Linked DNA regions of Homo sapiens. The protein of the gene in region 3 interacts with the protein of the main gene of each other region in a pairwise test. Each region holds a gene or a part of one and is shown on either strand. Other genes may lie near its edges.

Region 1 (3,826 bases), on a different chromosome or scaffold from region 3:
GGCTGCCATCTAGTTTCACGCGGATTCTCTTGCCCACAATTTTGCTTGTGAAGACCAAGTCCTCAAGGATGGCATCGTGCACAGCTGTCAGAGTATGGCTCCTGGGATGCTTTTGCTTATATTTTGTACAGCTTTTCCAAGTTGGCTTAGGCAGGATTCTCCTTTAAGCGATAAAGACAACATGCTTCCCACTGAACTTTTTCTCCAATTCACATACTAGCCGGACTTGGATTTTCTGGAAAGATTTCAGTTGAGGAACGGGAACAAAGATTATGATAGCTTTCTGACCACCACCAACCTCAATTTCCTTGGCTGCCATAATATTCAGCTCCCTGAGCTGAGCCTTGAGGTCCAAGTTCATCTCCAGCTCCAGAAGAGCCTGGGAGATGCGGGACTCGAACTCGTCCGGCTTCTCGCCATTAGGCTTCACGATCTTGGCGCTCGTACTGAACATGGCCTTCTCCTGGGAGAACTTGCCGAGCGCCGGCTTAGGAAGAGCAGAAGGATGCCTTTTAAGCAACTCCATGCTGCAGGCTCTTCGCCTGAAATACAACTCTGCTTCAGGCAGGTGAGGGCAGGAGGCAGGAAGCCAGACATTCAGGTAAATTATGGAGATAGTGCAAAGGATCAGGCATCTCAATGCAAGAATAAATAAGGCCCCCAGAAGTGGAAGGACCAAATATCAAGGTTCTGGGAGTCAAAGGAAAGAAAGCATGGACTATGTGATCCATTAACAGAGAAAGCCTTTCTTTTGAGGAAACTGGATAACAATGCTAGGACTGACTAGAACAGAGGTAACCTTTTGAGAATGGCAACGTGCCAAGCAGTTCAAGAGAATAACAACAATCATGTGGAATGGGCCAAGCCTGCTATGCGAGGCTGCGCAGGTTGCATGCTGCACAAAGGTCTCCTGCTGACAGGATTAAATGGGCCAGGAAAGGCTGCCTCTTTGGAGAGGCTACCTTTCCATAATTTACACTAAGTCATCTTATATGTTAAAAGTAGGAGAGGAAGTCTAGGTGAAGCCTGGGGGGCGGGGGGAAAGAAGTAAAGGAGGAAGGAAGGGTGGTCAAAGAAATGCAAAACCTTAAATTCTACTCTCAAACCTGAATATCCAATTGGACCTTCATTTCTTAGGCCTCAGGAAGGGGGTTGGGGTATTAGGGGGTTAGGGGTATGAAGGAGTAGAATAATCCAAGATGCCTAGAGCATGGGGCCCACAACCAGAGCTCCATGGCAACTTTCTTCAAAATGTATATTTAAATTTCTATCAAACTGTAATTTATTATGCAAGGTGAAATATGTAGGAAGAAACAGACCGATGTGTGCAGTTTACTTTGAAATGCATCAAGAAAATAAAGTAGAATAAGGGATCGCTAGAAGGATGGACAAATGGATAGAAAGGTGATAAAGCAAGTAGAGTAAAATGTTCATGGGGTAAACTCAAAGTGCTATGTATATAGCTGCACACAGTAAAATTATTTCAGCTTTGTTGTATGTTTTAAACTTTTTATAGTAAAATCTTGGGAAAACATTGATTGAAAAAAGAGGAATCGAGATCTAAGAAAAAATAATGACACACCAGAATGGGAAACGGCTGCAGACTGTCATAGAAATGTCACCAATTAGCTGTAATAACAATTAGAATGTGTTGGGTGCTTACTATTTGCCTAGTGCTATGCTAGTGCTTGACAGATAATCCTATTAATTATAATTATAGCAATTAGAAATGATGTAGGTCTTATCAAAGAAGGTCTCTAAGATTAAATTTTAAAAAGCAGAACTGGAAACAGAACAAGTCTGGCTAAAGTTAAAGGAAAGGAAACAGAAAGCTCCAGCCATAGAACGAAAGACAGGCTTTCTGTCCACAAGCGGGGAAAGGGCTGCCCATACAAACATATATGCCAGGCCTGGAAAATTAAGTCTAATGTTGCCCGGCATGGGGTCTTGAAGGATGTGAAAGTTCCAACCCATTCTTCCCACCACTCAACTCTTCCTCTCCAGTGGAGTTGACCACAATGCCACTGGCATAATCATAATTCCACTGCAGGTGGCTCCACGGTTTCACAGCCTTCAAAGTGCTCTTATATGTAGTATGTCAGGCAGCATAATGTCCTGGAAGGGCCAAAGACTCGGATGCTACAGGACCTCAGCTAAATGCTGGATTTTACCACTGACTATAGATGACTGTGGGCAAATAGCTGACTCTCCCTGGACCTCAGTTGCTAAACCTATAAAATGAAAGTGTTATCCCCATTTTACAGATGATTAAACTGAGGTCTGGAGAAGTAAGGTGACTTGCATAAGGCCACACAATTGATAAGAGGAAGAACGAGCCAGGCATGGTGGCTCACGCCTGTAATCCCAGCACTTTGAGAGGCCAAGGCGGGCGGATCACCTGATGTCGGGAGTTCAAGACCAGCTTGACCAACATGGAGAAACCCCACCTCTACTAAAAATACAAAATTAGCCAGGGTGGTGGCGCATGCCTGTACTCCCAGCTACTCGGGAGGCTGAGGCAGGAGAATCGCTTGAACCCGGGAGGTGGAGGTTGCGGTGAGCCGAGATTGCGCCATTGCACTCCAGCCTGGGCAACAACAGCGAAACTCTGTCTCAAAAAAAAAAAAAAAAAAAAGAGGAAGAATGGGAACTGTGTCTTTTGACATGAGGCTAGTGCTCTCAGGACTTACACAGGCCAGAATCATGCCCATATGCCCCTGCTGTAAAGAACACTCTGCTCTGAATCTCCATTAATTATCATCTCAAAAGAATAAAGACAAAACACATGTAATAAGTGACAATTTAAATATCTCTCAAGACTAACCATCTTTCAGTTTGTCCAAAAGAAAAGGAGGTTGGGAACTGTGTATTTGACATGAGGCTAGTGCTCTCAGAACTTACACAAGGCCAGAATCATGCCCATATGCCCCTGCTGTAAAGAAAACTGCTCTGAATACTCTTTCCAAGTTATCCAAATTGACTTACTGTTTTCAGTTGTACATTTCCAAACATTTCTCACAAATATATACATAGTTTATAAATGCTAATTAATCACTATTTTCCACATTATCACCCAGATCTAAGTACATTCTAGGGATTATAAATAAATTTGCCTCAATAATTAATAATAAAAATATTTAAAATACTCAAAGTATCTGTTATATTAAAAAGTGGATCCTTTCAATAGTGAAACTTTCTTTCTTTCTTTCTTTTTTTTTTTTTTTTTTTTTTGAGATGGAGTTTTGCTCTGTCACCCAGCCTGGAGTGCAGTGGCGTGATCTTGGCTCACTGCAACCTCTGCCTCCAGGATTCAAGCGATTCTCCTGTCTCAGCCTTCATGAGTCACTGGGATTGCAGGCATGCACCACCACGCCCAGCTAATTTTTTGTCTTTTTAGTAAAGACAGGATTTCACTATGTTAGCCAAGCTGGTCTTGTGCTCCTAATCTCAAGGGATCCACCCAACTTGGCCTCCCAAAGTGCTGGGATTACAGGCATGAGCCACCACACCCAACCAAAACTTTCTTAAACATGTTTAAACTAAAATTGTAAACAAAAAGAAAACAGAAAAGTTCACAGAACTTTGACTAAGCCCCTGCTGTCAGTAAGCAGTCAGGTATCTTCTTGGAACAAATGATTGTAAATGAACAAATTGAAAAAGACATTAACAATCACAGGCAACACTGAAGTGCAGAGGAATATATTTAAGCACGAAGATCTGAAGAACAAAGCCTCCATTTGGGGAAGAGGGCCTTTTATTTCAAGGGCACTTTCAGAAACCAGAAGACCAAAGCAAGAAAAAAATAACCTGTCATGTTTTTAATAAC
Region 2 (3,600 bases), on a different chromosome or scaffold from region 3:
TGAATATGTTTAGAACAGCACTTGGCACACACGAAGCACTCTATCAACAGCAGATATTATTAGTAGCACCTAGCCAGGTTTGTAAATGCTCAATAAATAATTACATTTAAGTATAAACTGCCACTGCCTTCCTTCAGTAACAATAAACCCTTACACAAGCATATCTGTAAAGTGCTTTGTTGCCCATGACCACATTTAAATTAAGAATCTAGAAGGTGGTCAGGGTTCTTAGTAACAGTAAATGCTTATTGCATTATATTGCACTATATACAACGTGCAATGTTCGAAGCATGTCTCACATAACAACTCATTCTGTCAGCTACCCTAGGGGTCAACATTACCCCATTTTAAGTGGAGGAAACAATCTCCCAGAGGGAAGTAACTTGCCCGCGGGCCCACAGCTGTCAAGGGGAGGGCTGCACTCCTGACCCCAACTCTGCCTGCCTCTGGAATGAGTTACCCTTTGCTGGAGCCGGACCGTGTGTACAGCACTTCTGGGTGCTCCACGAACTTTCCCAGCACAGCGCTTGGCACATACAAGGGGCTCAAAATTATGCGTAACGGAGAGAATTTCACAACGTCCCTATGTGGAAGAAATGATCACCTCCGTTTCAGAAATAAAGAAATGACACCAAGTGGGGGAAGTATTTGGCTGGAAAAAAAGATTGGACTTTGGGCCCAAAGTCCGCGAGCCCTTAGCCTCCGGCCTTGCTAACTTCCTGCGCAAGCTTGAGCAAGCCACCATCCCTGCCCATTTTTCCTCAACTGTTTAAGAGATCCCTCGGCCCTAAGGACCTCCCGATGCAGAAAATCAACAGAAGTGTTTGATGCTGTAAAAGGCGACTGTCACGGCGAGGGCTGTAACTACAAGGTCGCTGGGCGACTGGGCGGCTGAGCCCCAGCCAGTCTGCACTTCACCAACCGTGGGGGCCGGGCCGGGGTGCGGAGGCCCAGAGGCCAGGGCAGGCCTGCTTCGGGGCACTGGAGGTCTCCGAGGTTGGGGCGGGGCGGGGCAGCCGAGGGGTCTCCCAGGGGAAAGTCCAGGGCGGGATGGGGCGAGACCCCCGGCTGCATGCTGGTATCCTGACTCCGGGCCGCATGCGAGGCGCCGGCAGCAGCCTGAGAGGAGGCGCTGCAACCTCCCCGCCGCCCAGCCGCCGGCGGCCCTCATTCCTTCTCTCACTCACCCGCAGGCCGTGCGCGCTACCACTCCGCAGGACTCGCCTCTGGCCGGGTACCTCTCCCCGGGTCACCCATCAACATGGCCCCTTCACTTCCGGGACACGACCTTGCGCACGGAGCTGCGAAGGGGCTGAAGGGAGCACGAGGGCGAGTGGAGGCGGAGGGACTTCCGGTCTTCTCCAAGCTCTCTCTCGGGCCCCGCCCCCTGCGCATGATTCCGCCCCCCAATCCTGAGCCCCGCCTCCGTGTGTGACCTCACCAAGGGACTGGCCTGCAGAGGCCACTCGCGCCCCGCCCCCAGAGGACTCCGGTGTCCGGGTCCGGCTGTGGGTACCGGGGTGGTCCCGATGCTGGCAGAAGTTCAGAGGGCAGGAGGTAGCCTCGCTGTCCAACAAGGCTGCCGCACCGGGTAGGCCCCTCACCTGCTGGCAACCCCTTAGCCTGTCGGGGTACCTGGCCAGCCTCCTGTACTGTATATGCTGATCTCTGGCTGGGGCCCTGGGGTACCTGAGGGAATTCTAACACTAATATTCAGAGCTCCTCAAAACCCATTTTCTCAGATCGCCTTCTTTTCATCCCTCCATGCTGTTCCTACTCCCCAGGCCCCATGGCTTCTGGCAAACTCCTACCCTTCCTTCAAAGTCTACCTCAAATGCCCCCCTTCACTGGGAAATCTCTCCCAGCCCCTTCCTCGCCTCCCTCTAACACACTCACGTGCCTTCTTTGGGCCCCACGGAAATGTCTGCACATCTTACGCCTCATAATCTGTTCAACAACAAAACGTATTTCTTGGCGCCTACCATATGCCAGGCACTGTAATTTATCCATTTGCTTCTCTGTCTCTCACTAGATTTGAGGACGGAGGCCGTGTCTCTATGGAAGCTCCCTCCCCCAACTGCCTCCCTCCATGCCTGGCTCTGCCAAGCCCAGGGCCTGGGGCTTTGGAGTCCGGGGCCACCGGGGCCACCGCTGGCTCCTAGTTCCAGTTCCACCACTTAGGGACAGCTGCCCTCTGCCAAGTTTCCTAACCTCACCCAGCCTTGGGGCTGTGGTGAGGATTAAAAGGTAATATCTACCAGTAGAGGGGTGGGCAATTGCAGAATAGTCAGGCTATCTGATAAAAGGACGAGAACCAGGAGAAGAACATTGCAGGGAAGAGCATTTCAGGCCTCCCCCCAGGTAAGCCTTTAAGCTCAGCGTGGTCTAGGAGCCACAGGGAGAAAGCCAGTGCTTTCGCAGCTGAGTGAGCAGGAGCTGGGAAAGAGGCCAGAGGGGAGGCCCTTACCAGAACTGGGAGGGAGATGGCGGGTGCAAAGGAACCACAGCAGGGTTCAGAGCCAAGAAGTGCTGGGATCTGACTTCCCTTTCAATGGGATCTGTCTGGCTTGAGAATAACGGAATGGAACCAGGGCTGAGGCAGGGAGACCAATCAAGAGTCTGTTGCAGGGCTGGGCACGGTGGCTCACGTCTGTAATCCCAGCACTTTGGGAGGCTGAGGTGGGCGGATCTACTTGAGGTCAGGAGTTCGAGACCAGCCTGACCAACATGGTGAAACCCCATCTCTACTAAAAATACAAAAATTAGCCGGGAGTGGTGGCATTGTACCTGTAATCCCAGTTACTTGGGAGGCTGAGGCAGGAGAATTGCTTGAGCCTGGGAGGCAGAGGTTGCAGTGAGCCAAGATCACGCTACTGTACTCCAGCCTGGGCGACAGAACAAGACTCGGTCTCAAAAAAAAGAAAAAGAAAAGAAAAGAAAACCAAGATGGAGAGAGGCATAGTAGTTTCTAAGACACTGAGCTAAGAAGGAAAGAAGCTTTCAGTGGAAGCCAAGTCTGTCTTACTCTGAAATGTGTGTTCTTTCCACTCTTTCAGGCTGCCCTAATTTGCTTTTTAAAGAATTTTGTGACCCAAATAAATATAATTGGTGGCATTTCCATCGGCATACCAGATGACCTCTTCATATCTCTCCTGACTTTCTTGTTCTATGGAATGTTATTTTTCGGAGGGAGGGACAGAGGGAGGTCATTTGGAGGGGTCTCCCCTTCGGATCAGCCCCTCTAGATCCACTTGCTCTTCAGGGTCTTATCTTTACTTAGACTGACAAGGCCTCTCCCTGCCCCCGATGCTTCCGTGGCAATGGAGTGTGGGCAGTGAGGTGGTATCTAGCACTTACATGTACGTACCCATGGTGCCTTTGTAGGCCAGAGACCCACGGCAGGGGGCACTGACCCAAACCTCAGGGCTCTGCCAGGTTTCACAGGGCAAGAGGCATTCCAGGATCTCTTGGATTGATATTGCAGGGTGTTTGTTTGTTTGTTTGTTTGTTTGTTTTGAGATGGAGTCTCGCTCTGTCTTTAGGCTGGAGTGCAGTGGCGCGATCTTGGCTCACTGCAGCCTCTGCCTCCCGGGTTCAAGT
Region 3 (3,826 bases):
CTGACCTCAGGTGATCCACCTGCCTCGGCCTCCCAAAGTGCTGGGATTACAGGCATGAGCTACCACGCCCAGTTATTACATGGATTTTTAACATGATAATGAACTTCTATTCCATATACTTGGGTAAACTTGCTCTCTACAAAACTAAGAAAGATGTCATTGTGATTTACCAAAATAAAAAAATTCTTATCAGGAGGTAAAAAAGGGGTGCTAGATTCTCAATTCATGCATTTAACAGACATAATGATTCCCTTCCTTTTGGTTCTAGGGATGCAAATAGGAATGTGAATTGGTCTCTGCTTTAGTGTCAGACATGAAAGTAAGCTACGGTGGAGTGAGTTCTCTAATAGTTATACAGATGGTTTTTATGGGAATACACAGACGTATGTGTTCAAAATGCTGAAGTGGTTTGGCTTGGCACTTAAGCCAAAGCAGCCCCTTTTCTAAACTAGTGGTATTTCCCCCAACTTGAGGGCTTGTGCTCCATTAATATTCTGAATGAATGTTAGGTTTCTTCTTTGCTGCCACTATGTGGATACAAAACATGATATTATTTCTTTGGTTAAAAGGCAGAAACTCCTGTTTCTTCAGTGTCTTGTTTACTGTATATGAATATGCATAAATAATTAAGGGGTATATCAAAAATGCAGCTGTTCAGTTGATAGTTAAATATAAATGATTTCAAATTTAATTTCATTTTTAGGCAATTTTTGGGAGTGTTTAAAGTATTTAGTTCCACAACATTAAAGGTAAAAAAGAGTTTTGGTCTATAAAATTGTGACTATTTGCTTTTTCTAGGAGATTACTAGAGTTGGACCCAAGTTACCTGGTGTGTCATGCTGAGGAGTTCCTACAATACTTTGTCAACCTTTTTTTGAAATGACTTAAGGTTTCACTTACATGTTTAACATAGATACCAGTAATCCTTCCCTAAATTCATGACTACTTTTTAAGGAAAAATGATGCCTTTAAGCCTGACTTCAACTCAAAGTTAACCAAAGAATACCACCTTGAAATTGTAGAACACCTGACAGTATTCTACAAATTCTCTGCAAAGCTAGAGACCTTAAAATAATGGGTTCGGTAACCACTAAGTTCCTTTTCACTTCTAGGAGTATAATACCCTCATTTGACAGATGTGGAAAGAAGTTAGAAGGTAATATGACTTGCCAAAGACCTTGATCACAGGTTACTTGAGGTTTGTCTGAGGTAGGTCTTCCCCTTTAGGTGTAAAACATGGTCATTTAGGATTATTTACTTCAATAAAATGTGTACTTTTTAAAAATAGCTGACAATACAAGCTAAAATCATGAGATTGGATACTAGATGATTTGTAATTTTTGGTTGCTCTGAGAATACTTCCCTTCTCAGAAGTAATAAAATGAAACAGAATTTCTCTTTTATGTTTTCATTAGGTGTGCCTTGCACATACAAAAAAGAACCTGTTCGTATATCTAATGGAAATAAAATATGGACACTGAAGTTCTCTCATAATATTTCAAATAAGACTCCACTTGTCCTTCTCCATGGTTTTGGAGGAGGTCTTGGGCTCTGGGCACTGAATTTTGGAGATCTTTGCACCAACAGACCTGTCTATGCTTTTGACCTATTGGGTTTTGGACGAAGTAGTAGACCCAGGTTTGACAGTGATGCAGAAGAAGTGGAGAATCAGTTTGTGGAATCCATTGAAGAGTGGAGATGTGCCCTAGGATTGGACAAAATGATCTTGCTTGGGCACAACCTAGGTGGATTCTTGGCTGCTGCTTACTCGCTGAAGTACCCATCAAGGTAAGTGGTGGTGACAGAAGAGAGGGATTATAACTGTGCTTCCAAGTACCAGACTCTAGTTCCCATCTTTGGTGGTTGTTAGTGTCTGAGCCACAAGGCAGACATTCTCTTAAAGGACCCTATAGACCACACCACAACTGATGACCAATATAGTAGCTGAAATAATCATGTCAGATCTTCCTATTACACGTACTACATGTTAATAGGCTTGGGAAAGGGGTTTCTATTTGTTAAGCTTAGAATTGTAGAAACTTTAATGTATAATTTTAAGCCACAAGTAAAAATTATTTATTATTATTATCATTAAACCTATGAATCCAGCAGGCTTCGTCTAATGTTTTCTAAGTTATAGTAAGCTGTAAGGGGAAACCAGAAGGTTAGAAGATGTAGGTACTAGTGCTAGCTCTATGACTTAGAGCAAATCACTTAACCTCTAACCTTTAGTTTTCTTTTACCTAAACTATAGAAAATACAACTTCATAGCATATATCCCAGGGTTTTTTATTATACCATACCCTAACCTTTCTCATTATAAAACATTGAATTAATGAACATTTGCTTCAAAGTCTTTCTAGCATCATCTCCTTTCTTTAACTTTTTTTTTTTTTAAGAGATAGAAGCTCGCTCTGTCACCCAGGCTGGAGTGCAGTGACATGATCTCGGCTCACTGCAGCCTCCGCCTCCCAGGCCCAAGCAATTCTTCTGCCTCAGCCTTTGAATAGCTGTGACTACAGGTGCATGCCACCACACTCAGCTAATTTTTGTAGTTTTAGTAGAGATGGGGTTTCGCCATGTTCGCCAGGCTGGTCTCAAACTCCTGACCTCAAGTGATCCACCCCCCTCGGCCTCCCAAAGTGCTGGGATGACAGACCTGAGCCACTGCACCCAGCCCCTTTACGTTATTTTTAAATGCTATTTACTGTCATTCATGTTACTACTCTGAGAGAGGGTCACATTTAAGTGCTAAGAAAACAGGAGAAAAACTCATCTTTGTTTTGATCATCTTTTGGAAAGAAACAACAAAAAATGAATACAGCATTTTTGTGTTGCCAGTGTATTTTTCCATTGGACTGATTTTTAAATCCAAAATTGCAACTGATTTTGACTTTGAGGTCCGTGAGTGAGACATGGGATGATGGTCATTTCAGAGTGCCTGTATGTACCTATAAGATCTCCCCATTGCATAACTCTGGGTGTGTGTTCAACACAGAATTTGATGTGTGAAGCAGCAGCCCTGTGTACCTGAGGTTCTCTTCCTCTGGAACAGCCACTTTTTCTCTATAGACTCTTTATCTAAACTTTAGCATTTACACCTGATTTTTCTGATCTCATGGTCCTATATGTGCTAGACAATAATAGTCCTGTCAACTGGCGGACCTGTTCTTTAAAAAGAAATGCAAATTTTCTTCTCCTGGTTGGCATTTTGGGGTTACTTTCTTTATTTTCTTTTTTTTTTTTTTTTTTTTTTGAGCCGGAGTCTCACTCGGTCGCCCAGGCTGGAGTGCAGTGGCGCGGTATCTCGGCTCACCGCAACCTCCGTCTCCCAGGTTCAAGCAATTCTCCTGCCTCAGCCTCCCGAGTAGTTGGGATTACAGGAGCCCGCCACCACACTGGCTAATTTTTGTATTTTTAGTAGAGACAGGGTTTCACCATGTTGGCCAGGCTGGTCTCAAACTCTTGACCTCAGGAGATCCGCCTGCCTTGGCCTCCCAAAGTGTTGGGATTACAGGCATGAGCCACCGCACCCGCTGGTGTTACTTTCTTTTATTGTGTCCTACTCTTAGTGACAAACACCTATTTGCATTTATGGTGAAAGGAGAAGGAAGTAGATGCTTTTCTGGTACAAGTCAACAGGGCTATTTGTGGGAGTTGAACTTCCTTTGTTTTTTATCAGGTATGTATTATGTCTGTGTCTGTCTTGTGGTATTTATTCTCTGAAGATGTGACATGGAACTCTGCAGGCTAGACCTTGGTCATTAAACCCTAAGTCTTAGAATCCTGACCCTTCATAGCTCTCTACTGATAAGGTCAGTTGGCA

Evidence for each region.
Region 1: the proteins of ABHD5 (region 3) and PCNX2 interact in binary tests that used the Homo sapiens proteins (3 or more experiments, as listed by UniProt).
Region 2: the proteins of ABHD5 (region 3) and MIEF1 interact in binary tests that used the Homo sapiens proteins (3 or more experiments, as listed by UniProt).

The regions. Positions count from the first base shown.
Region 1 is NC_000001.11:233,288,994-233,292,819, forward strand, and holds part of PCNX2 (pecanex-like protein 2), read right to left. Parts: intron 499-3,826; exon of another isoform or gene 1-498. UniProt on the Homo sapiens protein: May play a role in tumorigenesis of colorectal carcinomas with high microsatellite instability (MSI-H).
Region 2 is NC_000022.11:39,500,025-39,503,624, reverse strand, and holds the start of MIEF1 (mitochondrial dynamics protein MIEF1), read right to left. Parts: upstream 1,336-3,600; 5' UTR 1,188-1,335; intron 1-1,187. UniProt on the Homo sapiens protein: Mitochondrial outer membrane protein which regulates mitochondrial fission/fusion dynamics.
Region 3 is NC_000003.12:43,700,800-43,704,625, forward strand, and holds part of ABHD5 (1-acylglycerol-3-phosphate O-acyltransferase ABHD5), read left to right. Parts: intron 1-1,415; coding exon 1,416-1,788; intron 1,789-3,826. UniProt on the Homo sapiens protein: Coenzyme A-dependent lysophosphatidic acid acyltransferase that catalyzes the transfer of an acyl group on a lysophosphatidic acid.